7 linked regions of the Homo sapiens genome follow. The protein of the gene in region 5 purifies or fractionates together with the protein of the main gene of each other region. This does not show direct contact. Each region holds a gene or a part of one and is shown on either strand. Other genes may lie near its edges.

Evidence for each region.
Region 1: the proteins of ZC3HAV1 (region 5) and RBM19 purify together in Homo sapiens (affinity purification with mass spectrometry; 2 studies listed by BioGRID and IntAct, with this or other methods). This does not show direct contact.
Region 2: the proteins of ZC3HAV1 (region 5) and YBX1 purify together in Homo sapiens (co-immunoprecipitation; 3 studies listed by BioGRID and IntAct, with this or other methods). This does not show direct contact.
Region 3: the proteins of ZC3HAV1 (region 5) and STAU1 purify together in Homo sapiens (affinity purification with mass spectrometry; 3 studies listed by BioGRID and IntAct, with this or other methods). This does not show direct contact.
Region 4: the proteins of ZC3HAV1 (region 5) and PUM3 purify together in Homo sapiens (affinity purification with mass spectrometry; 2 studies listed by BioGRID and IntAct, with this or other methods). This does not show direct contact.
Region 6: the proteins of ZC3HAV1 (region 5) and EBNA1BP2 purify together in Homo sapiens (affinity purification with mass spectrometry; 2 studies listed by BioGRID and IntAct, with this or other methods). This does not show direct contact.
Region 7: the proteins of ZC3HAV1 (region 5) and NIFK purify together in Homo sapiens (affinity purification with mass spectrometry; 3 studies listed by BioGRID and IntAct, with this or other methods). This does not show direct contact.

Annotation. Positions count from the first base shown.
Region 1 is NC_000012.12:113,826,826-113,830,325, forward strand, and holds part of RBM19 (probable RNA-binding protein 19), read right to left. Parts: intron 1-3,500. UniProt on the Homo sapiens protein: Plays a role in embryo pre-implantation development.
Region 2 is NC_000001.11:42,688,918-42,692,417, reverse strand, and holds part of YBX1 (Y-box-binding protein 1), read right to left. Parts: intron 1-3,500. UniProt on the Homo sapiens protein: DNA- and RNA-binding protein involved in various processes, such as translational repression, RNA stabilization, mRNA splicing, DNA repair and transcription regulation.
Region 3 is NC_000020.11:49,125,835-49,129,334, forward strand, and holds part of STAU1 (double-stranded RNA-binding protein Staufen homolog 1), read right to left. Parts: intron 1-3,500. UniProt on the Homo sapiens protein: Binds double-stranded RNA (regardless of the sequence) and tubulin.
Region 4 is NC_000009.12:2,830,596-2,834,095, reverse strand, and holds part of PUM3 (pumilio homolog 3), read left to right. Parts: coding exon 1-65; intron 66-663; coding exon 664-739; intron 740-2,751; coding exon 2,752-2,845; intron 2,846-3,067; coding exon 3,068-3,134; intron 3,135-3,500. UniProt on the Homo sapiens protein: Inhibits the poly(ADP-ribosyl)ation activity of PARP1 and the degradation of PARP1 by CASP3 following genotoxic stress. Binds to double-stranded RNA or DNA without sequence specificity. Involved in development of the eye and of primordial germ cells.
Region 5 is NC_000007.14:139,082,221-139,085,720, reverse strand, and holds part of ZC3HAV1 (zinc finger CCCH-type antiviral protein 1), read left to right. Parts: intron 1-1,688; coding exon 1,689-1,941; intron 1,942-3,500.
Region 6 is NC_000001.11:43,166,488-43,169,290, forward strand, and holds part of EBNA1BP2 (probable rRNA-processing protein EBP2), read right to left. Parts: intron 2,542-2,803; coding exon 2,452-2,541; intron 749-2,451; coding exon 673-748; intron 433-672; coding exon 339-432; intron 1-338. UniProt on the Homo sapiens protein: Required for the processing of the 27S pre-rRNA.
Region 7 is NC_000002.12:121,726,876-121,730,375, reverse strand, and holds the end of NIFK (MKI67 FHA domain-interacting nucleolar phosphoprotein), read left to right. Parts: intron 1-1,815; exon of another isoform or gene 1,816-1,839; coding exon 1,840-1,899; exon of another isoform or gene 1,900-2,019; coding exon 2,020-2,088; exon of another isoform or gene 2,089-2,463; coding exon 2,464-2,652; 3' UTR 2,653-3,431; downstream 3,432-3,500.

The sequences.
Region 1 (3,500 bases), on a different chromosome or scaffold from region 5:
CAGTGAGCACTCATGGGGCGGGGGCTCTTACGCGGAGCCTGGCTTTGTGGCCTTGATGAACCAAAACATCTCATTCCTTTACCTGCCAACTATGTACTCATGTATCATAAGCCAGCCTCCGTGCTCCTGGGCCTGGCATATCTGCCAGGGTTCAGGCTGGGCCCCCAACTGCCCCCTGGAGGACATGTCAGGCCCCGAGTTCCCACCGAATGACACCCCGCACCTCCCGCTGGCCCTGCTTCCTTGAGGAGCACCCTGTTTGCAGCGAACAGCTGCTGAAATCCCACTTCCCCGACATCAAAAGCCTCAGTGGGTTTTCACCAAACAAACATAATGCAGAACCGGAGAAAGGTGTAAAATAAATAAACGAAACAAGCTGTGCATTTTCTTTCAGTATTACAGCTGCACCCGAAGATAAACAACAAGTGAATGTCACCAAACATCAATACCCGAGAAATTAACTTGACAAAAAGCTCAGCCATCCCCCGACAACCCCCCAGTCCTGCCCCCCTCCCCACCAACCTCCAACCACCATTTTTGCATTTCTGGAGTTCCCACCTAATGATTTTATTTTTCAATTAATTCCTTGACAGAATGCCAGCCTGTGTCTCTCCCTTCCCTGGCTGGCGCTGTCGGCCCTGCATGGGAGGCGCAGGCAGGCAGGGAGAAAGGCGCAGGCAGGGAGAAAGGGCGGGGGGGCGGGGGGGTGCGTCGGGAGGACAAGAGAAAGCGCTTCTTGGGGTTTTGTTCTGGAAGCAGACGTTGAGGAAAGGCAAGCCGGGGGAGAAGAGCGTGGCTGATAAGGGGAGAAGGGAGTTCTGAAAGGAACCCTGGGATGAGGCAGGCGTGAACAGTCCGGGGAGGGGAAAAGCACTGGGCCAGGAAGCCCAGGGCTGGATTCTGAGTGGAGAGGCCTGAGGTACAGGGTGGAGGGTGCTAGATGCAGGGTGCTGGGTGGGTGAGCTGCCAGGATCAAACCCTGCTGCTCCTGGCTGGGCAACCTTGGGTAAGTTGCTTCACCTCTCTGGGCTCCTCTCAGTTTCTGCAGTTACTGAATGGTGATGAAATCTACACGCCTAGGGTGTGTGAGGGTATTAAAAGAATGAATATATGTATGTAAGGCCCTCACAATAGTGCCTAGCACACGGCAAGCTGTCAATATAGGTTGGTCATTCTTACTGCTGTTGATGGAATCTGTTACTGAGAGCACGAGGGTGGGCTGCTCCCCTCCTCTATAACACGATGATAGCAACAGCAGCTCTCGACTCTGTCTCAAAAAAAAAAAAAAAAAAAAAAGTGACCAATGGGATGGAGCAGGGCCTCCCACTGTGGGCCCACAGAAGAGTGTCTGGATTTGCTGACATGATTTGCCATGAATACAGAAATCAGTGACTAATGTTCAAAAACAGGGAGATGCTACATAAGAATCTGCACCTCTCGTTTCTCTTGAACCTGGAATGGCTAACCTGTGAGTGTGGCAGACCTGTCCCCTCCCTGCCTACAGGTAACTGATGAGGCTGTGCACTAGCTGCCCCTGGAGACACGCAGCCTCACTTATGGGGGCTTTTCTTCCTGTTCCTGGAGGCTCCTGAGTTGCTACTTCCCGAGACACAGGATAGGCAAGGCTTCCACAAACTCCGCTAAGTCGGAGACAGAACTGATTCCAAGAGGCCGGGGTGAAGGGCAGGGGGCGGGGGCACAGGTGGGCGAGGGGAGGAAGGAGGTTGGGGCAGAGTGTGGAGGCCAGAATGAGGCTCCACAATCTTCAGACTCAGTGGTGTGCAGTCCTAGGCTGCTGGGGGACACCAGCCACCTGTAGCTCCCACCCTTGGGGAGTATGAGGGTGCCATGATGTGGGTACCGCAGGGGGGCTGGGCACCCGGGGGCTGGCCTGGCTTGGGAGGCTGCCTGCTCTGGAAGGCTGGCTGAACCAGACCCCCACCCTCAGCTGCTGGTGCCTCTGCATGGGTCTCTCCCTGTCCTCCCTGGCTTCATATCTTGCAGCCCCCACGGGCAGAGCTCTCCTACCCAGATAGGTCTGCATCTCAGGGCTCTGTGTACAGCAGGCACACATCAGGTACGCACAGAATAAAGGGTACTCTTCAGGAGACTGGCCTGGCTCCTAAGACCAAGCCAATGTCCCTTTATTGATACAGGAGGCTGTTTTAGGGCTGTGCCTTTTTTTTTTTTTAAATAGACAGAATCACACTGTCACCCAGGTGAGTGCAGTGGAGCGATCTCGGCTCACTGCAACCTCTGCTTTCCGGGTTTGAGTGATTCTTGTGCCTCAGCCTCCCAAGTAGCTGGGATTACAGGCGTACACCACCAGGCCCAACTAATTTTTGTATTTTTAGTAGAAATGAGATTTCACCATGTTGGACATGAGCTCAAGTGATCCACCCGCCTTGGCCTCCTAACGTGCTGGGATTATAGGCATGAGCCACTACGTCCAGCCAGTTGTGCCTTTTTAAAACACAGCGAGTCCTTCTAAGAACTAGGTATGATCTGAGAGGGTCCTTGTGCAGAGCGGGTGGGCAGGAGCCTGGGCCGCAGACTGGCCTCTGCCACTGTGGGACTCCCAGGAGCTGCTAAGCTCCTTACCTCAGTGTTCCCACCTGTTAAACGGGGACGGTGCCTGCTCTGCTTATCTCATGGGGACCGTAAGGATTCCTGCCTTCAGTCACTCTTAGCAAGCATGACCCAGCATATTCTATGTGCCAGGAATGATGCTGGGGATATGGCAGTGAACAAAACTCCACAGGATAAACTAAACCACCAGCCATGGGGGCCACACTGGGGCTCAGGGTGGACAGGACGAGGTGGGACCTGAGTGCTGCCACTTGGTGGTCCCAGCCTTCTCTGAGTTACCAAAGTTACTCTTCTGCAGACAGGACACAGTAGTAGCACCCACCACAGGGGATTTGATGAGATAAAGCATGAGAGCACTTAGCCCAGGGCCCGGCCCGTTGAGGTGCCAGGCAAACATGAAAGCTAACAATCAAAGGGTCCTGTGAGGCCACCCCAGAGGACAGGCAGTGCCCAGCAAAGGGGAAATCCAGCTGCCCAAGATAAGGCCAAGGGGCGAGCTGCAGGGACCACTCCTCAGGCGCCTGCTGGCTCTAAGCAGCAGGCTGGCTCTGGACTTTCCTACAGAAATTCCACCAGCTAGGCAACATCATTGTCCCACTTTTCAGATGAGGAAGCAGCCGCACTAGGACTCTGAAGAGTCAAGTGGTCACACTTTCCAAGCAGGACCTTGAGCTCAGATAGGGTTGGCTCCAGCCTTACTGGCACAGCATAGCAAAGCCTGCCCCGCAGAGGGGGACACTAGCCCAGCCTCCCTAGGATGGGGGTCTCAACAGGAAAAGCATGAACAGACCCAGGCTATGTAGCAGCAATTTCCTTTTCAAAGGCCATTGGTTCTCAATCCAGCTGTCTGGTAGCATCAGCTAGGAACCCACTGATGCCTGGATCCTACCTCCAGAGGTTCTGATGCAAAT
Region 2 (3,500 bases), on a different chromosome or scaffold from region 5:
CAAGTGACTGAAAACTGACCTTTCAAGCTAGATGATTAGGATTGCCTAGGGAAATGATGGCTGTACCTAATGTCCATCTGTCCATAACTCCATAGGCACCACAAAAACAGATTACAGCCATCATTTATTAGTTCTGCTCTCCAATATGACTGAATTTCAAACTCTAAGGCTCTAAGGGGAAATACAATAAAAAACTGGTAGAGTAAGAAAGGCAAATACAGGCAAAGTCTAGAATAGTGATTTTCAACAGGGGCAATACTTCCCCTGGCAGGGTATTTAAAGTTTTTCCAGTCCGGGTGCAGTGGCTCACGCCTGCAATCCCAGCACTTTGGGAGGCCAAGAGTTCAAGATCAGCCTGGCCAACATCGTGAAACCTCGTCTCTACTAAAATTACAAAAAATTAGCCAGGCGTGGCTGTGTGTGCCTATAGTCCCAGCTACTCTGGGGGGTGAGGCAGGAGAATTGCTTGAAGCTAGGAGGCGGAGGTTACAGTGAGCTGCTGCACTCCAGCCTGGGCAACAGAGTGAGATTCCATCTCAAAAAAAATAAAAAAATAAAATTTTTTTCCAAAGATAGGGAGCACTATCTGCATTAATGGAAGTGGTGGGTGTTAGTTGCTAGAAGACTATGTAAAGATTTGGTATAGAAAGTAAATTTGTTTATTGTTATCTGAGTCATGTATGTATTTCTGTACTGTTTTAATACGCATTAAATTCACTAAAAATGCAGCTTCTGTGGAGAATTTTTCATTACTGATAATGCTACTCATGGTATCTGGGTAATACATCATTTCTTTATCAATCCATTTTGTGGTGGCTCTGACTGTTTGTTATGCCTTCTAATGTAGTTACAACAGGTATTCACATATCAATATCATCATACCCGGCAATAAAAATAATTAAAAGTAGTTACGTGGCGAGACCCTATATCTATAAAAAATAAAAAATTAGCCGGGCCTCCATTCAAGTCCCGGAAATGAGGGTGCAGTGAGCTATAATCATGCCACTGTACTCCATCCTGCGCAACAGAGCAAGACCCTGTCTCTGCACAGAGAAAGCACAAGGCTGCCATTACACACAGGGTAATGTCACTCCTGCAAAGACAGGGAGGTGTTTTGTGGGTACATAGATAGATATGTGAAACTAACACAGTTCACTGACCAGTGTCATGACAGTAAAAACAGTATTGCAAAAGGAATACTTAGCCAGGGCCTCAAGCTCAAGGTATTTACTGAAAACGTCCTCAATTGCAATAAAAACATTATACCATTAAAAAGAGTGATTTGTTGAACCAGTGATTTAAATGTATTGATCTGCTTTGAATTTGCAACCAGCCAGAATCTCTAGTTTAAACTGGCAGTTATAACAAAAGAGACCCTCAAATATTAGACAGCTGCAGTGCAGCTTTCTGGGTGCAGGTGTCACTCTCTGCCAGCCATCACTATTCTTTTCTGTTCAGTTTTTCTCTCAGGTGTTTGCTGGGAAATTAACACTGGAACTGACCCTTTTCCGGCAGTGAATGTAAGCTCTAGCTCCCCCATCTACTAGAAAGAAATGTCTTCAAGATGTAGAAATAAGGAATATTCTGAAAATAAAAATTATACAGTAGTAAAGATAATTCAGAAAGAAAAAGCTACCTGTTAGAATTTCCAGTCTAAATGGCACAGGGTAGTTAGGGAGAAAAGGGGTTGGAGAAAGAGAAACTATGACTAAAGATGAGAGGTATGAACAAGCTGTCAAGTTCCTATGGGCTAAAGCTGGGGCAATCAGGCCCTGAACTCCAAAGCTGGATAAAGTCTTTCTTTCTATTCTTCTTGGCCACCTGCACAGTCTGACACATACATATGTACAATTAGATTTGCAGGTCACAGGAGTGCCCTGCATTGTTTTAACTAGAAATAAAAAGTATTAGTCTAAATGTGGTTCTGGTGCCCTGTATATATGTAACAATATAGGACCCCCAAAATAGATTTTGCTTCTGGTGAATCTTATTCATTGGGTTAGTGTATGACTGTCTATAATATTTTCCATTTGTATTATTACATTGGGAAAAACATTTTTATCACTTTCTATTGTTAAGAAAATGGAAAACTTAAATATGGTGTTAAAAATGGAAATATATGTGATATTTGCATTATTAAACCCCTTTGCAGATCTTAAAAAAAAAAAAAGAAAAGAAAAAGAAATAACAGTACTCAATTTTTTTTTGAGATGGAGTCTCACTTTGTTGCCTAGGCTGGAGTGCAGTAGCGATCTTGGCTCACTGCAACCTCTGCCTTCGGGGTTCAAGTTCTTGCACTTCAGCCATGAGTAGCTGGGATTACAGGTATGCACCACCACGCCCTGCTAGATTTTTAGTCTTGACTCAACTATTAACAGCTGTGTAACCTAGGAAAGCTGCCTCATTGGCTTTTTTACCTGCAAAATGAGAAAAACTACACTAAACACTTAATAACTTACATTACTAAGGTAGGTACTCAAATCTTTTTAGTATTTATTGGGCATTTACTATTCACTAATACTAGCCAGATTTCTAAATTAAAATCTAATTGCTACCACTCCTATACTATGGCCTATCCAGATTGGTAAGGGTCTTAAAAATAGACAAAATGCAACTCAAAATGGGAAAACAAAGGCAAAAAAATTTAACTTCCCTGGAAAACTTTTTAGTAAGTCAAAAGACAATTACAGCTTGCCAGATAATTCTCCATGCCACAGGAACTAGGAATTCTAGCATTTGCTTTTCATGGCCCAATCCATCCAAACTCCCGGACTCTACTCCAGCATGTTCACCATGTTTGACCCCCCTCCCACTCCTTTTAAAACATAACTATCTTTATCCTAGCTGTATATCTACATAAAAAATAAGCTAAATTTTAGAAAACTTTTTTGCCAATCCACAGTATTGCCTTAAATAAGACTTATTATACATAAATTTATCCGTAACTAAATGCTCTTATACTACTACTTTGTTGCAGATCACCAGACCACACTAGTCTAACACCTTAATTCACGTAACTGCATACACTAATTTACAATCCTGTGGTTATAAAAACTCCAGGATTTACCATCTATATGCTCCATAACCTAAAGCAACCAGATACCAATTTCCAAGCCTTGTAGATGACTGTAAGATAATAATGTCCACTTATCTTTGTATTTCTTCTCTATTAAACACCCTTCACACCCAACAGACTCACTTCTGTTTCCCACATATTGTCTATGATTCTGCCTTCGGACAAACTGTATGTTTCCAAGGGCTAAGACTGGAGGGTAGCAAACTCAGCAACTGCAGCCCCAGGACTAGGGGGACAGGAAGGTAATACAGTGTATCCTTGAATAACTCAGTATCTATGAGGGTGGATAGAAGTTTGAGGTGCCAACCTGCTGCACAGTTGAAATCTGCCTGTAACTTTTGACTCTTCCAAAATTTAATGGCTTACTCGTGACTGGAAAGCCTTACTGGTAACATAAATCCTTAACACATTTTCTGTCTTATAT
Region 3 (3,500 bases), on a different chromosome or scaffold from region 5:
TCCGTCTCAAAAAGCAAGCAATGAAATTAGTTACCTACAACAGGTGTGAGGGATTAGGGTAGACAGACGGGATGAGACGGGAATGATAGTTTTGACTTCTGGAAGCATTTACTGTTTTACATATTAAAGAAATAAAACTAAGTCAACAAAGATGGGGAAAGAATCTAAAATTAAACATGAACAGAAAGTTAGCTGCATATTAAAGTGATTACAATCTCCAAATGGACCAAAGACCTACACAGAGGCGCTAACATGCACAACTCTCAGAAGCAAAAACAGGCGAGTCTTCATGACTTTGGGTTTGGCAATTGGTTTTTAAGATATGAAACTAAAAGCACAATCAACAAGAGGGAAAAAAAAAAGTCACACTTAATCAAACTTTAAAACTTTTGTGTATCATGGACATTATCAAGAAAGTGATTACAATAACACAGATAGAAAATCAGGCTGGGCAGGGTGGCTCATGCCTGTAATCCCAACGCTCTGGGAGGCCAGGGTGGGAGGATCACTTGAGCTCAGAAGTTCAAGACCAGCCTGGCCAATACAGCAAGACCTTGACTCTACAAAAATAAAAACAAAATTAGCCAGGTGTGGTAGTGTGCCCCTGTATGTAGTCCTAGCTATGTGGGAGGCTAAAACAGGAGGATCACTTAAGCCCAGGAGATCAAGGCTACAGGGAGCTATGATCACACAACTGCACCCCAGCCTGGGCAACAGAGCAAAACCTCGTCTCAAAAAGCAAAAAAAAAAAAACAAAAAAAAAACAAAAAAACTTAAAAATCTAACCGATATTAGCCAAGACACTCAAAAAGAAAAATAGAAGACTTACACTACCAGATTTTAAAACTTCCTATAAAGTCACAACAACTAGGATATGGTTTTGTGTAAGGATAAATAGATCAACAGAACAGCACGAAAAAGACCTGCACATATAAGGTCACTCGATTTTTGGCAAACACACCAAAACAAATTAAAAATCTCTTAAAAAAATAGTACCAGAGCAACTAACTAGGTATCTGCATGGAGCGGGGTGGGGGGAAGAAAAAAAAATCAAACCATGATCTCTAACTCATACCACAACAAAAATTAGACCTAGGATCACTTAAATGTGATCTAAACTAAAATTACAAAGACTTTATAACAGGAGAAAGCCTCAAGACTGTAAGGCTGGCAAAGAGTTGAACACAAAAGATATCCACCATAAAGAAAAAAGAAATTCCTCAAAATTAAAAACCACTGGCCGGGCGCGGTGGCTCACGCCTGTAATCCCAGCACTTTGGGAGGCCGAGGTGGGCAGATCACGAGGTCAGGAGTTCGAGATCAGCCTGGCCAACATAGTGAAACCCCGTCTCTACTAAAAATATAAAAAATTAGCTGGGCGTGGTGGCGGGCACCTGTAATCCCAGCTACTTAGGAGGCTGAGACAGGAGAATTGCTTGAACCCAGGAGACGGAGGTTGCAGTGAGCTGAGATGGCACCACTGCACTCCAGCCTGGACAACAAGAGCGAAACACCATCTCAAAAATAAATAAATGAATAAAATAAAAAATAAACTGCTCATCAAAAGACATTTAAAAAGTAAAAAAGGGGGCCAGGTGCAGTGGCTCACGCCTGTAATACCAACACTGTGGTAGGCCGAGGCGGGTGGATCACCTGAGGTCAGGAGTTTGAGACCAGCTTGGCCAACAGGGTGAAACCCTGTCTCTACTAAAAATACAAAAATTAGCTGAGTGTGGTGACACATGACTGTAATCCCAGTTACTTAAGAGGCTAACACAGGAGAAATGCTTGAACCCCAGAGGCGGAGGTTGCAGTGAGCTGAGATCGCGCCATTGCATTCCAGCCCGGATGACAGAGCAAGACTTTGTCTAAAAAACAAAAAAAACTAAAAAAGGGGCCAGGCACATTGGCTCACTCTTGTAATCCCAGCACTTTGAGAAGGCCAAGGCGGGTGGATGGCTTCAGTCCAGGAGTTTGAGACCAGCCTGGGCAACATGGCAAAACCCCGTCTCTACAAAAAAAATACAAAAATTGGCTGGGCTCGGTGGCTCACGCCTGTAATCCCAGCACTTTGGGAGGCCGAGGCAGGCGGATCACCTGAGGCCAGGAGTTTGAGACCAGCCTGACCAACATGGAGAAACCCCATCTCTACTAAAAATACAAAATTACCTGGGCGTGGTAGCGCATGCCCATAATCCCAGCTACTCGGGAGGCTGAGGCAGGAGAATCGCTTGAACCCAGGAGGCAGAGGTTGCGGTAAGCTGAGATCACGCCATTGCACTCCAGCCTGGGCAACAAGAGCGAAACTCTGTCTCAGAGGAAAAAAAAAAAATACAAAAATTAGCCCAGTGTGTGGTGGCGTGTGCCTGTAGCCCCAGCTACTTGGGAGGCTGAGACAGCAGGATCACTTGAGCTCAGGAGGTCGAGGTTGCAGTGAGGTGAGATCATGCCACTGCACTACAGCCCGGGTACCAAGTGAGTTCTTTTCTCTAAAATCAAATAAAATAAACTTGTTATTTCAAAATATACATATTTCCTAGCTCTATCTCCTAACCGAGAGCCATGGCTCTCCAGCAGGAACAAGCATGCTAGCACCCTGTCCTGTCTCTACACACCACTCCCAATTAGAAGGAACCGGATCTTCTTGGAGGAATGGCCAAGACCATTTCTATTAGAAATTTATGTTTCCACTGGGGCTAAAGCTAGAGCAGGGGAAGTTCAAAGTGAGGCTAAAACATTTTGTTGTATCAGAAAGCATGGAAGTTCTCAAAATGTGAAGAGGGGAGGTGCAAAGGTTATTTAATAAAGGACTGTCTCAGCCAGGCATGGTGGCTCAAGCCTGTAATCCCAGCCTGGGCGACAAGAGCAAAACTCTGTCTCAAAAAATAAAGGACTGTCTCTTCAACAAACAGTGCAGGCACAATTAGACATCCAAATCCAAAAAAAAAAAAAAAAAAAAGACAAAAACATCCCTTATGTCACAGTATATATGAAAACTAACTCGAAATGAATTATAAACCTAAATGTAAGAGCTAAAACTAAAATTTCTAAGGAAAATGACTTTAGGTTAGCCAAATGTATCTCAGCATACACAAAAATTATTAACTATAAAAAATTTAACAAACTACACCTCACCAAAATTCAATACTTCTGCTTTTTGAAAGTCACTTAAAATCAAACGACAAGCCACAGACTTAAGAGAAAATATCTGCAAAATACTTATCTGAGAAAAAACTTGAATTCAGAATATATATAGAACCTCCAAAACTCAATAATAAAAAGACACTCAAAAAAACTGGCAAGATATAAACCTATATTTCATCAAAGAAAATAGTAAAATAAAAACACGAAAAGAAGCTCAGTATTGCTAGTCTTCATGGAGATATATAAATTAAAACCACAACAAGATACTACTGACTACCTGCTAGAATGACTTTAAAAAAAAATTTTTTTTTTTTTTTTTTTTTTTTTGAGACGGAGTCTCACTCTGTCACCCAGGG
Region 4 (3,500 bases), on a different chromosome or scaffold from region 5:
CTCAGTGATAAAACCAACTATGACATTGTTGTTCGGGCAAAGCAGATGTGGGAGATTTTAAGAAGGTAATTCTACCTAAAGATGCCTTTGTTAGTCCCTTTGCAACAGTGGAGAAGTCAGTGTACCTTGTAAATAGTGAGATGTCCTAAAATAAATGACATAGCACTTGGGTTATTGAGGGGGTCCTCATGACACCCCATTAGAGACATCAGTACTTGGAAGTCTGCCCGTCACAGAAGTGTGTAGAATCATTATGATGGCATCGGATATGCTTATGAAAATGTATGAGGTTGAAATAAATTTGACATTCTTCCTGAGAGATTTCTGAGAAAATGAAGGACAATTTCTTATCAGCTAGATTTTGAGATACTTCAGTATTTGTTATCTTAGATTTGTTTTATTATTTTTTTTACTTCTGAAGTTCTGGCTGTTAAGATTTGGATTGATACCTAAAATTATACCTTTTGAGATGAGTTTCTGCCTTTGAGAAAATTACTTTTGTCTGGCTGCTCTGGAATAGTAATTTTAATGGCAGAGGTTTGCTGCCTTAGAAAAGAAAATCATGCTGAACTTGGAGAACATATACTGGTACAGTTTTTAATTTTGTGTGTTTAAAATAACTTCTTTATTTCAACTGTGTTTCCTTCCTCTCCTCATTTGTAGAAAAGACTGTGACAAAGAAAAAAGAGTAAAGTTAATGAGTGATTTGCAGAAGTTGATTCAAGGGAAAATTAAAACTGTAAGTAGCATATACTCATTGTTGCAATTTTTAACAGTTGAAGTTGCCTCACTCTCAGGAGTAGCTGACCATTCATGACAGATGATCTTATCATTGTTTCCGGTGTATTTGGCCAAAAGTTTTAAATATCTTCCATAACACTGAACTACATAAAAATTTAAAAGTGAGGGACCTTACTGCTAGGGAGTTTTGAAAAGATTATCAGTCTTTTCAGTCATTTTTTAATAATTCTTAAAATAAGCCAGTGTTTCCTTAAAGTTATCTTGAGAAGTTTATTAGTTCAGTAGTATTTTATAAATGTGTTGTTCTAAACTCCATATAATTTAGTATGTTCTCAATTGCCAACTTCTTTATATTTGTGATGTGAACATATTACTTCATTCTTTTCCTCCATGCTTTTGTAAACATCATGCGAAGATCTTTAACTAAAATATAATCATTTCAGAATTCTAAAGTAGTTTTCATTGTTGCTGCTTAATCCTGTTTTGTAATAAATTTCCTGTGACTCTTGTGTATTTGGATTAATACATAATGGCTTGGAAGACAACAGATTCTCATAGTTTTACGGCACCTGGAGGGGCAGCCTTTGTCAAGTCAGATGCATAGGTCTAACCAGATGCTATATTACAGTTTGAAGGAAAGTAGCAAGTCATCAGCTGCCGCTTTCTTATAAATTCAGCAGGATCTTTTTACGATAGGACTGCCCCCTCAGCTCCGACAATTTATAAATATTTCACTCAGGATTCTTTCTCAACTACCCTGAGGTCACAGCTGTATGACCATGGTGTTAGAAGTGAGTTTGGTATTCAAATCCTGGCTGGGCTGCTTAAAATATGTGTGCCTTTAAACAATAACAATAACTTCTTTATTGATTATTTACTATAGGCTAGGAATTGTGTTAACCAGCACATGCATTGTGTCGTTTACTGTATGTCATCATCCGTGTTGTATATTTGATGTATCTGGGACTCAGGGAAGTAAGATTCTTCCTCGGGGTAATAGAGATAGCGAGTTCCTTCTCATAACCTTACTTCCCTCATCTGTAAAGTGGGAATAGTAACAGCTCATTCTTATTGTTGCTTTGAGTTATAAATAAGAACACTATGTTTAAGGCATTTATGTTGATTATATAATAGGTGCTCAATATATGCACAAAAACAGCCTTATTTTTTTAAGAGATACTTAAGAGATGTCTTACAAATCTTGAAATTTATGACTTTGATGGAAGTATACACTCACCTGATTTGTTGGAATTCAGAAACTTTAGAGTGAGCAACAAATAAGCACTTTTGAAGTAGACTGGTACTGTGGCGTAGTGAAAATAATTTTGCATGATGGATGATTCGTGGAGGGCGCTCTAGAAAATTGGTCAGTGGGTCCTTCCAACAGTCATGAGGAGGAATGGGTTAGAGAATCAGATTCAAAACACAACAACTCTTCTAGAAATATAACTGGATATATGTGCAGGAATTATAATGAAAATGTGACAAATGGATGATTAACTTATTATATAATTGACAGTGTTTATGGACATAGTTGTATTTATTTCTTTAGGAAGACTTTTAGATTGATCTTACAGGTATACTTCTGGTTGCCAAAGCCAAACATTCTTAGATCACTTATATAAAAATCATACAGTAACAGACCTTTTAAACAGAAATATTTCCCTTTTAGGGACGGTAACTTATCAAAGAAATGAGAAGTATAGTCTGTATAATCATCAGATGGTTTGGTTTGCTTTGGTTTTAATTGCAATGAGAGGAGTCTTGCAAAATGGTTAAATTTATCCTTGCCTCAATGTCATTATTGTACCTATCAAATATGGTAGGCCTCAAAACAACAGAATGATGTTTTGTATAATTAAAACAAGTAGTTCTCAGTAATCTAGGTTTGATTTTATTCATGAAGACTACCTTTTTTTCTAACAAGAAATTCCAGAAGAGGTCACAATAAATTAGTGAGAAACATAAGTCTCAAAAGAGAATTAGTCTAACTCAAACTTTTTCCTGCAGATTGCATTTGCACACGATTCAACTCGTGTGATCCAGTGTTACATTCAGTATGGTAATGAAGAACAGAGAAAACAGGCTTTTGAAGAATTGCGAGGTATTTATTACATACTAAAGATTATGTTATCATTTGCAATAAGTCACTTGTTTTCTCTTAAAATACCCAAGACTGTCCTAGAAAACAATTTTTGTTTAGGTTTGTCTTCTCCAGATCCTTTTTTGTTTTTATTTTTTCCTTGCCTGGGACAAATTTCCTCCCTTTGTTTCCAGAGAACTGAAATGAGATCTGAAGTCACTGTAATGTATTTTTGTTTTTCAGATGATTTGGTTGAGTTAAGTAAAGCCAAATATTCGAGAAATATTGTTAAGAAATTTCTCATGTATGGGTAAGTTGTTTTATGTATAAAATACATTTTTTCTTTGTCTTTTGAAGACATGGTTTCCAACTGTGCTCAGATGCGAGATAGGAAGTCTGTGGTCTTTATAAGTAATAGTAATGGCTCTCAGCAGATGCTTGTGTTGTTTTTAGAGAGTATCATCTTAAATACAATTATCGAAATTAATGTAAAATTATGGTACTGCCTTCATTCCTAAAAAGATACATGAGAAATGTCCTGCAAATCTCCTTGAAATTTATGACTTTGATGGAGGTATACCCTCACCTTCTGATTTGTTGGCATTCAAAAGTTTTAAAGACAGAGTGAGCAACAGATAAGCACTTTTGAAGTAGACTGGTATTGTAGCATAGTAAA
Region 5 (3,500 bases):
TGCCTGGCTGATTTGGATTTTATCAGAAGGAAAGAGGAGGAAGAGAGGGGCGAAGTTAAGTGTAAGAGGCAGTGCAGAGAAACAGCTTTGTGGTTTAGGGGGTGTGAGATGGGGACCACAGTGAAATGTTTCCAGTCACTTCATTGATTGCTTTGCATTCATTCAACTAACATTTAAAAGCACCTGCAAGTGTTAGTCACAATGTTAAAATACTGGAGGTAACCAGTGGGAAGCCACACACTCAGCCCTAAAAAACTACGTATTCACACTTTTTCATTTTGCTTTGACTTGTGAGAACATAAAAAGATCAGGCAAACCTGACTGCCTGATATATAAACTTGTACAATTGAAATGTGCTTCTTAAAGGAAGAAATGCTTTCATTTGTTCTGGTCTAATGAAGGCAGGAGCATTCTTGCTTAATATCGGCGTGGGAATAGGAATGTTACCAAAACATCATTTGTGAAGTTGCTAATGGTGCTTTTTTGCTACAGCTCAAACTTTAGCGGACATCAGAATCATCCAGAAGGTTTGTTAAAACACAGACTGTTGGGCCCCACCTCTGATGGTTCAGACTCTATAGATATGGGCAAGTGCCTGAAGATTTGCATTTCTAACAAATTTACAGGTAGTGCTGATGGTGCTGGTCCGGGGACCACACTTTGAGAATTGCTGGTCTAGAGTCTAGAATCTGGATCATAGACTTGATAGCAGTTACATATATCTATTTGAATCAGGTTTTAGCGATTATCCATGTGGCAAAATCATTGCTAGTGGGGTTTGAATCATGGCTTGCCATCTAGACAGATCACAGTGAACCATACTGATCTGGTTTGCTCAGAGTCTATCGAAGTGACTCATTAAAATGTCTGAAATTCAGGTTTCTTACTAATTATATTGGTTTCCTCATTTCATGGTTCAAACACGTGCATCACACTTTATATTTTGCATAACGCATTTACAAATTTTGCTATTTAGTCTGCTTAACAACTTGGTTTTTGTAGACAGAACAAATCTTTTCCTCCTGTTACAGCAAAGGAAACGGAGGCTAAGAGTAGGTAAGGGATCCCTTGAGGTCACACAGCTGCTTCCAGGGCCTCAGATTTTAAAACCAGCATCCTCCAGTTCTGTATCATATGGCGTGGCCTCAGCTGCAGTATTTTCTCTGCCCTCTTTCCAGTAGGGACTACATCTCTTCAGAGCTAGTCACGTACATGTATCTATTTAGATGGAAATACAAAACTTATCTTCTTTAGGCAATCTTTTGAGAAATGTCATTCTGCCTAGCAGAGTCTAAATTTTGGATTTCCAAACAGTTGCAGGTAAGACCCACATGTCCTTTTCATTGCAAAGTGAGTTGATAACCAAAGATGAGCCTTCCTGTGCTGGGTTCCTTCATGATATAGGGCTCACTTTGGGTCCTGTTTGTAGCTAACCAGCTTACATTGATTCTTCCAAGGGTTATCAAATTGATCAGTATCTTTTGGTTAGTCTGTGGACCTCTTCTGCCCCAAGTAAATCACCAACTGAATGTGACTCATCAAAGACTGCAGAATATGCATGTATTTTTCCCCCTTTGGTATATCTCTGCTTGCTTCAGAGATTTTTGCACACGTGAGCTTGCCTTAATGAATGTTTGGCAAATACAAGAAGGTGTTTTGACTCTGGCTGTTGTTTCTCCCTTCTGTAGATATGCAAAAGTTATAAGGGAGAGGGTCGGCAGCAGATTTGTAACCAGCAGCCACCGTGTTCAAGACTCCACATCTGTGACCACTTCACCCGAGGGAACTGTCGTTTTCCCAACTGCCTCCGGTCCCATAACCTGATGGACAGAAAGGTGCTGGCCATCATGAGGGAGCACGGGCTGAACCCCGACGTGGTCCAGAACATCCAGGACATCTGCAACAGCAAGCACATGCAGAAGAATCCCCCAGGGCCCAGAGGTAAAGGCCTTTTCTTTTTCAATTGTGTGAACTCTTTTTTTTTTTTTTTTTTTGAGACAGAGTCTCTCTCTGTCACCCAAGCTGGAGTACAGTGGCGTGATCTCAGCTCACTGCAACCTCTGCCTCCCAGGTTCAAGTGATTCTCCTGCCTCAGCCTCCCGAGTAGCTGGGATTACAGGTGTGCACCACCACACCCAGCTAATTTTTGTATAAATTAGAGACGGGGTTTCGCCATGTTGGCCAGGCTGGCCTTGAACTCCTTACCTAAGGTAATCTCCCTGCCTCAGCCTTTCAAAGTGCTGGGATTACAAGCATGAGCCACTGCACCCGGCCAATTGTGTGAACTTTCAAATCAGCAGAAATCACAAGGAAAGAAAAACTGCCATAATCACTCTACCTTGCCGTGTAAAACTCTTCATTTTCCCTTCCAAACTTCATGCATATGTATACACCATTTTTACATAATTATAATGGTAGTATACATGCAGTGTTTGCAATTCAATTTTTATGCTTAGCACTATTGCCCCCCCCCCCAGGTTTAAAAAAGTGTATATCATTTTTCTAAAAACTAATTAACAAAGCTTTTTTTTAAGGAAAAGAAACAAACATAAAATTGTTTAGATTTATCAGCTGTTAACATTTTGTCCCAATTGCTTTAGCACTTTCTTTCTCTCTATGTATACATGCAGCTACTCACACACACGTAGAACATTTTGGTGTTTAAAGCATTTGATATATGTAAATATCATGACATTTCACACCTGAATATATCAGCATGTATCTCCTCAGAACAAGGCCATTCTCTTACATAATCACAAGACAATTAATACAGAAAATTTATTATTGATGCAAAACTATGTATAATTTAATTTATGGTCCTCAGTGCCATTTCTTTAAAAAAAAACCAATATTTTAAAATTTCTAAAAAAAGCCACAATAACTCCCATTCCCTTCTTTCCCCAGCCCCTGGCAACTAACATTCTGCTTTCTGTTTGTATGAATTTGACAACCCTAGGTACTTCATATAAGTGGAATCGTACAATATTTATCCTTTTCTGACTGGCTTATTTCACTTAGCATGATGTCCTCAGGGTTCATCCATGTTATAGCATATGTCAGAATGAATATTTCATTGTATGTATATAATTATAAATTTTTTATCCATTCATCTGTCGATGGATATTTGGGCCATTTCCAGTTTGGCTATTGTGAATAATGCTGCTGTAAACATGGTGTACAGATACCACTTTGAGACCCTGTTTTCAGTTCCTCGGGGGTATATAATCAGAAGTAGAATTGCTGGATCATATGGTAATTCTATGTTTAATTTTTGGAGGAACGATCATACCATTTTTTGTAGCAGCTGTGCCATTTTTCATTTCTGCCAGCAGTGCACATGGGTTCAAATTTCTCACATCCTCTATCATTTTGTGTTTTCTGATTTTTTTTTTTAATAATAGCCATCCTAAGGAGTATGAAGTGCTATTACTTTTTTTTTTCTTTCCTGTTTTGAGACAGAGTCTCACTCTGTCACCCAGGCTGGAGTTCAGTGGTGCGAC
Region 6 (2,803 bases), on a different chromosome or scaffold from region 5:
AGTTCCAGCTACTCAGGAGGCTGAGGCACAGAATTACTTGAGCCCAGGTGGCAGAGGTTGCAGTGAGCCAAGACTGTACCAGTGCACTGTAGCCTGAGTGACAGAATGAGACTGTCCAAAAAAAAAAGAAGTTTAAAAAGTGCCTTCTTTTACTCTTCAAAGACTGACATGGCTAAAAGGGCCCATCACACAGTCATAGGGGTCCTGGCCCCAGGCAGCAGCTGCACTCTCTGGACTCTATGGCTGCGCCGGTGGAGGTGCTATGTCTGCCATACTCGTGACCTGTGGCCCCATCGCACCTCACAGAACCAAAGAAACCATGCCAAAACCCTTCTCACCCCTTCCTCATCTGCTGGCCTTTGGCTCCTGCCTTCTTGCGCTGTGCCAGAGGTTTCTGATCTCCCTCAAGGAAATCCAGTTTATCAGAGAAGCCTGTAAGTGAAGAAGTAGTTTTGATCAGCACCATTGTATTTTAAGAATAAAAGTTTAAACCACCATATGAGGCTGTTATTTGCTACACTGATTTTAAGAGTCACATCCTGCTCTCCAACACCATTCCCAAAACTTTGATCCGACAGGTCCACATCAACCAAGAAGGCTCCAAAGCACTAAGTGTTCAAATCAACTCTAAAGTACCTGCTACCCTCGTTCCCCTATTAGAGATGTACCAACCTTTCTGATATTTCTTAATAGCATTCATCATATGGGCTTTCTCCTGCTGCCTCTTCTGAAGAACCTCCGTTTGCACCTGTGATATGAACACAAGGACCGTTACAGCCATTCCATACCATTACTCCAGTGTCTACATTGTCTTAATAGCAACACCATGATTAATACCACTACCCTCTGACATTTACTACGTGCCAAAAACTGTGTTAGGGACTCTAAGTATATTCTCAGATCTAGGTATATTCTTCATAGATGAAGATATATCTGTCTCATAACAATCCAGTGAAGTTGAAATTTGTGTTATCCCCTAAACTGAAGCACAGGGAAGTTAACTTGCCCAAGTCGCACAGTGAAAAAATGCACAGCCAAGATGACCCAGGCTGTTTGACTCCAAAGCCAGCACTCACCCTATTATACAATCCTGCCTACAAAACTGAAGTAAATCATGTTTAAGACTACATCGATTTTTCGCATCACATTTGGACAGATTAATTATCTAACTCACTGTTACTAGGCATGAAAGTACCAAAAGGAAGAGAAAAAAACAATGTCCCCAGGTAAAGAAAAGAAAAAAGTTTGAAGGATAAAAGGAGACACTTTATAATACTCTAACAGAGGGTTTCTCAATCTTGATACTGCTACAGTGTGGAGAGAATAATTCTTTGCTGGGGGGTAGGGGCCTGTCCTACACTGTAGGATATTTAGCGGCACCCCTGCCCTCTACCTACTAGATGCCAGTAGTACCCTCCCTCCCAAATTTGACAACTAAAAATATCTCCAGGCAGTCACAGAAAACTCTTGGGGAGCAAATTCACCCCCAGTTAACAAACTCTTCCCCAGTGTTTCCTTAAATTAGGAACAGTGAACTAATAGGCCCAAGTGAGTTTGTCTTTGCTTTTGGTAACTTTGGCTATGTTAAATTAATTACTGGTGTCTTTGAGAGAATCTCAGCCATCCACCTCCAGATCAAAGAAATAATAAATCCGCAGCAGGCCTTTTGTAGAGGACAGGATCCCAGCCTATTCCTACTTTGCTGAGAATGTATCAGTGAAATGACTCCAAACGTGGACAAGAGTTCTGCAGCCCAGATCACAAGTGCTTATGTCCAAATGTTGACGAAGTCTTAACACCCACACCAATCTTCCTCACATTCATTTCTTCCCACAATCCTAACTTTAAAATCTGTCATCTTCTTTCTTAGATGACCATGAAATAAAAAAGGAAAACCAAGAAAAGTTTTAGGGTATGCCTGATCTGGTGTTACATTAGAACTCAGACATTCATAGTTCAAACACGCAGGCAATCTTTCAGATTGGATGACAATCATTATGATAATTTCTTCAGGTACGTGATTATCACATAGATCAGTGAATCCCAAACCAGGATGCATTTCAGAATCACCTGGAAAGCTTTTGGGGAAGAGGGGAAAACAGGCACAGATTCCTGGGGATTCTGAAGTCTAGAATTCTGTTTTGAAAAATTTCCCCTGGTGATTTTGCTATAAGGTCAGGTTTGGAAACCACTCATCTGGACCCAGTGTACAGATGTGAAAACTAACGCCCAGAGAGGTGATTGGCTCACCTGCAGTCACCATACTACTCCTGGGGAACCACTCATGTCCAGGCAAGATTGTGCTCATGAATACCAGCACATACACTGAGAGACGGTAAATACATGATCAACACACAGTTCCGTTCAGTTCAGGGGACCAAGTCAGACCACGGCAATCTCATCTAACACACACTCCGCCTCTTCCTGTTCCCTGCACACTTTTCTTCTCACCTTCTTCCCGTATTTCCTAAGTGCTCGCAGTTGCTTAGCTTTTTCAGACCTCTCCATGGCAGCCTGTTTAGTCTGCAGCTTCTGTCGAATCTACAACACAAAATGCTGTCAGTTCATGTCATTTGAATCTGGAATGACCACTACTTAGGATTCGCTAGAGCAGGGAACAGATATTCCCTGTTCTTTAAACTGCGGAACTTATAAATCATCAGTTCCAACCCCTGAGGACAATGGGGCCCACAGGCTGAGCACTTTACCAAAAGTGCCAGAGTGAAGCCAGAGATTGAAAGTCACCTTCCCGCTCCCAGTGTGCTGTCTGTTTCATTATACAAACTGCCTATTTGTAGCCCAG
Region 7 (3,500 bases), on a different chromosome or scaffold from region 5:
TTTTTAGTAGAGACGGGGTTTCTCCTTGTTGGTCAGGCTGGTCTTGAACTCCTGACCTCAGGTGATCCGCCCGCCTCGGCCTCCCAAAGTGCTAGGATTACAGGCGTGAGCCACTGCACCCATCCTTTTTTGTTTTGTTTTGTTTTGTTTTGTTTTTTGAGACAGAGTCTTGCTGTGTTGCCCAGGCAGGCTGGAGTGCAGTGGCACAATCTCAGTTCATTGCAACCTCCACCTCCCAGGTTCAAGCAATTCTCCTGCCTCACCCTCATGAGTAGCTGAGATTACAGGTGCGTGCCACCATACCCGGCTAATTTTTTGTATTTTTAGTAGAAATGGGGTTTCACCATGTTGGTCAGTCTGGTCTCGAACTCTTGACCTCAGGTGATCCATCCACCTCAGCCTCCAAAAGTGCTGGGATTACAGGTGTGAGCCACCATGACTGGCCTGACTAAACTTTTGAAACATTCCATTGTAGGTTCTTCCTAAAACATTATGAGACCAGATTCTGTTATTTCTATTATACAGAAGAGGAAGCTTCTTTTAAGGAGATAATCTGATTTGTTTAACTTACATGTTCTGTTTTAAGTTACTGAAGTAAACCCACTATTTAACTAAAGACTGTAATACTCTTAGATTGCCATTTATTAGCCAGTTGAGGTAGTGTGTGCCTGTAGTCCTTGCTACTCAGGAGGCTGAGGCAACAGGATCTCCTGAGCCTAGGATTTCAAGTTTGCAGTGAACTGTGATTGTACCATTGCACTCCAGCCTCAGCAACAGAGCAAGACCGTATCGCTAAAAAAGAAAAAGATTGTCATTCAGAGGTGACACTGCCAGAATTAAGTCTTTGGTTTACTGTATGCTATAAGTAGATACCAAAACACTGACCCTTTCCTCCATCTGTCACAGTGAGGAGAGCTATGTCTTTTATTATAGATCAAGAATGAAGCTTATTATGGTATGGCTAGTATAGGTAAAGGTCTCATTCTTTTCTTTTTTTTTTTTTTTTTTGAGATGGAGTCTCCCTCTGTTGCCCAGGCTGGAGTGCAGTGGCACTATCTCAGCTCACTGCAACCTCCGCCTCCCAGGTTCAAGCGATTCTCCTGCCTCAGCCCCCACGAGTAGCTGGGACTACAGGCACACACCACCACACCCAGCTAATTTTTTGTATTTTTTTTAGTAGAGATAGGGTTTCATCACCATGTTAGCCAGGCTGGTCTCGAACTCCTGACCTCATGATCCACCCACCTTGGCCTCCCCAAGTGCTGGGATTGTAGGCGTGAGCCACTGCGCCCAGCCAATTTACTAGGTTTTTAACCTTATCCAGAAACTAGATGACCGTGTTACCCTCCTTTGCCTCAATTCTCGGTGGTTAATTTTTTGCCCAAATCCCAAATACTGTCTTTAATAGTATTAGAATATTTCGCCAAGGCCTTAGGCCCTGGTACTCTTGTGAACCATTTGGGAACTGAGACAGTGAAACTTGAAAAGAGGCATGTGAGCACTGCTTTTCCTGTACCCTGTTTGTGACTTAGGAGATGGGGGTGGCCTGCCTTTGCACATTCTTCCTGCTTCCACCCTCCTGAATTCAGGATTCTGTGAATCAGTGAGCTCCAGGTTTTGGCCTTCCCTTCAACCTCTGCAGCTCTGTCAATTCCTCTACTGGGTTTTTCCTAGTTTTGCCCTTTACTTGAGATAATTCACTGTATTTATGAGTTTTGATTTTTTAAAATGAAATGCTCTTGTCATTTAGGGAGGATTTACTGATAATATATATGAGGATCTAATGCTAAGTTTAGAAAGAAAAGATATGAGTGTCAATTTCTAACTTCTTTATTAAAGATTTTACAGAAAACGGAAAGTATTTCAAAAACTAATCGTCAGACGTCTACAAAAGGCCAGGTAAAATTTTTTTTATCATTTTACATGCAAGATATTAGAGAAGGATAAGTAGGAAAACATATTCAAGACTACTGTAGCTGATCAATATTCAAATTGATGTGTTTTAAAATTTATTTTAAGGTTTTACGTAAGAAGAAGAAAAAAGTTTCAGGTACTCTTGACACTCCTGAGAAGACTGTGGATAGCCAGGTAAAATGGTTTTCAATACTCCAGACACCAGATATTATAGAAATAATTTGAAGGAGGAGAAGCAGTTTCTGCTACTCTCATTTTAAGATTTCAAATTAAATATTGTGACATTTGGTAGATCTTTATTGTTGATTTAGCAATTTTCTGCCTAAAACCTTATAATGGAACATGCTATATTTGTTAATTGTGAATTTCTGTACCAAGTTTGATAAGCATCTAAGTTCTTTATTCTTTGCAATAGTATCACCAAAAGATGGTAACAGAGCTAAAATAATGGGGCACAACTTGTAAAAATAGAGGAGAGATGATATTTTTGGGTAAAGTCATAATCATGTTTTACATTTATGTATTATAATCTTTACTTGTTGAATCCAGGGCCCCACACCAGTTTGTACACCAACATTTTTGGAGAGGCGAAAATCTCAAGTGGCTGAACTGAATGATGATGATAAAGATGATGAAATAGTTTTCAAACAGCCCATATCCTGTGTAAAAGAAGAAATACAAGAGACTCAAACACCTACACATTCACGGAAAAAAAGACGAAGAAGCAGCAATCAGTGATTTTCAATGTATTATATTTCTTTTGAAAAATATAATATTTTTATGAGAGTGGACTTTGTATTTCACTAGGTACAATGGAATACAACCTTTGACAAGATTTTCAGAGGAAAAATACACTGTTTGGTCAAGTTAAGGAAAGCAGTGTGTAATTTTGGATTGCCTGCCCTTGGCTGAAATACAGGGGTGCATACCATCTTGCAGTGGCTTGGCTGACATTGCCTCTTTGTCCTGGCCTCTAGTTTTCTTTTGATATTTCATAGCTCTCCTTAGTTTACTCTGCCTGGATAGAAAGTTGACCACTAACTGCAGGTTTAAGTACTAAACTGCAGCCTTTTCTGTCGCCAGCAATTAAAGACCACCAATCTTGTTTGTCCATCTACATGGTTTGTCGGGGACATTTAACTCATGGAGGTGCTTTAGATTTCAACATCAGATGGTTGAAGCTGGAAGTTTAATTATATGTAGAGTGAGAAGGCAGTTCCAGTTTTAGCACAGATTTGTTTATGTGTTCAGATTTTAATAGAGATTCAAAAATGACTCATTTTTACCAATAATGTTAAATTAGTTTTGGTTGTGCTAGCATGAATTAATAACCACCATTTTATACCAGTATCATCAGTGAAGAATTGTATTTCAAGATTCAAACAATAACCAGCAATTAAACTTTTTTCTACAATGTATTTGTTTGCGAGTAGGACTTGGGAGTCATTGGGAAAAAAAAATAATAAATTTTCCCCTTCATTAACGAATTCAGACTCATTAAAAACATTGCCATCAGATGTAGTAGCTTGTGCCTGTAATCCCAGCACTTTGGGAGGCTGAGGCAGGAGGATCACTTAAGGCTAGGA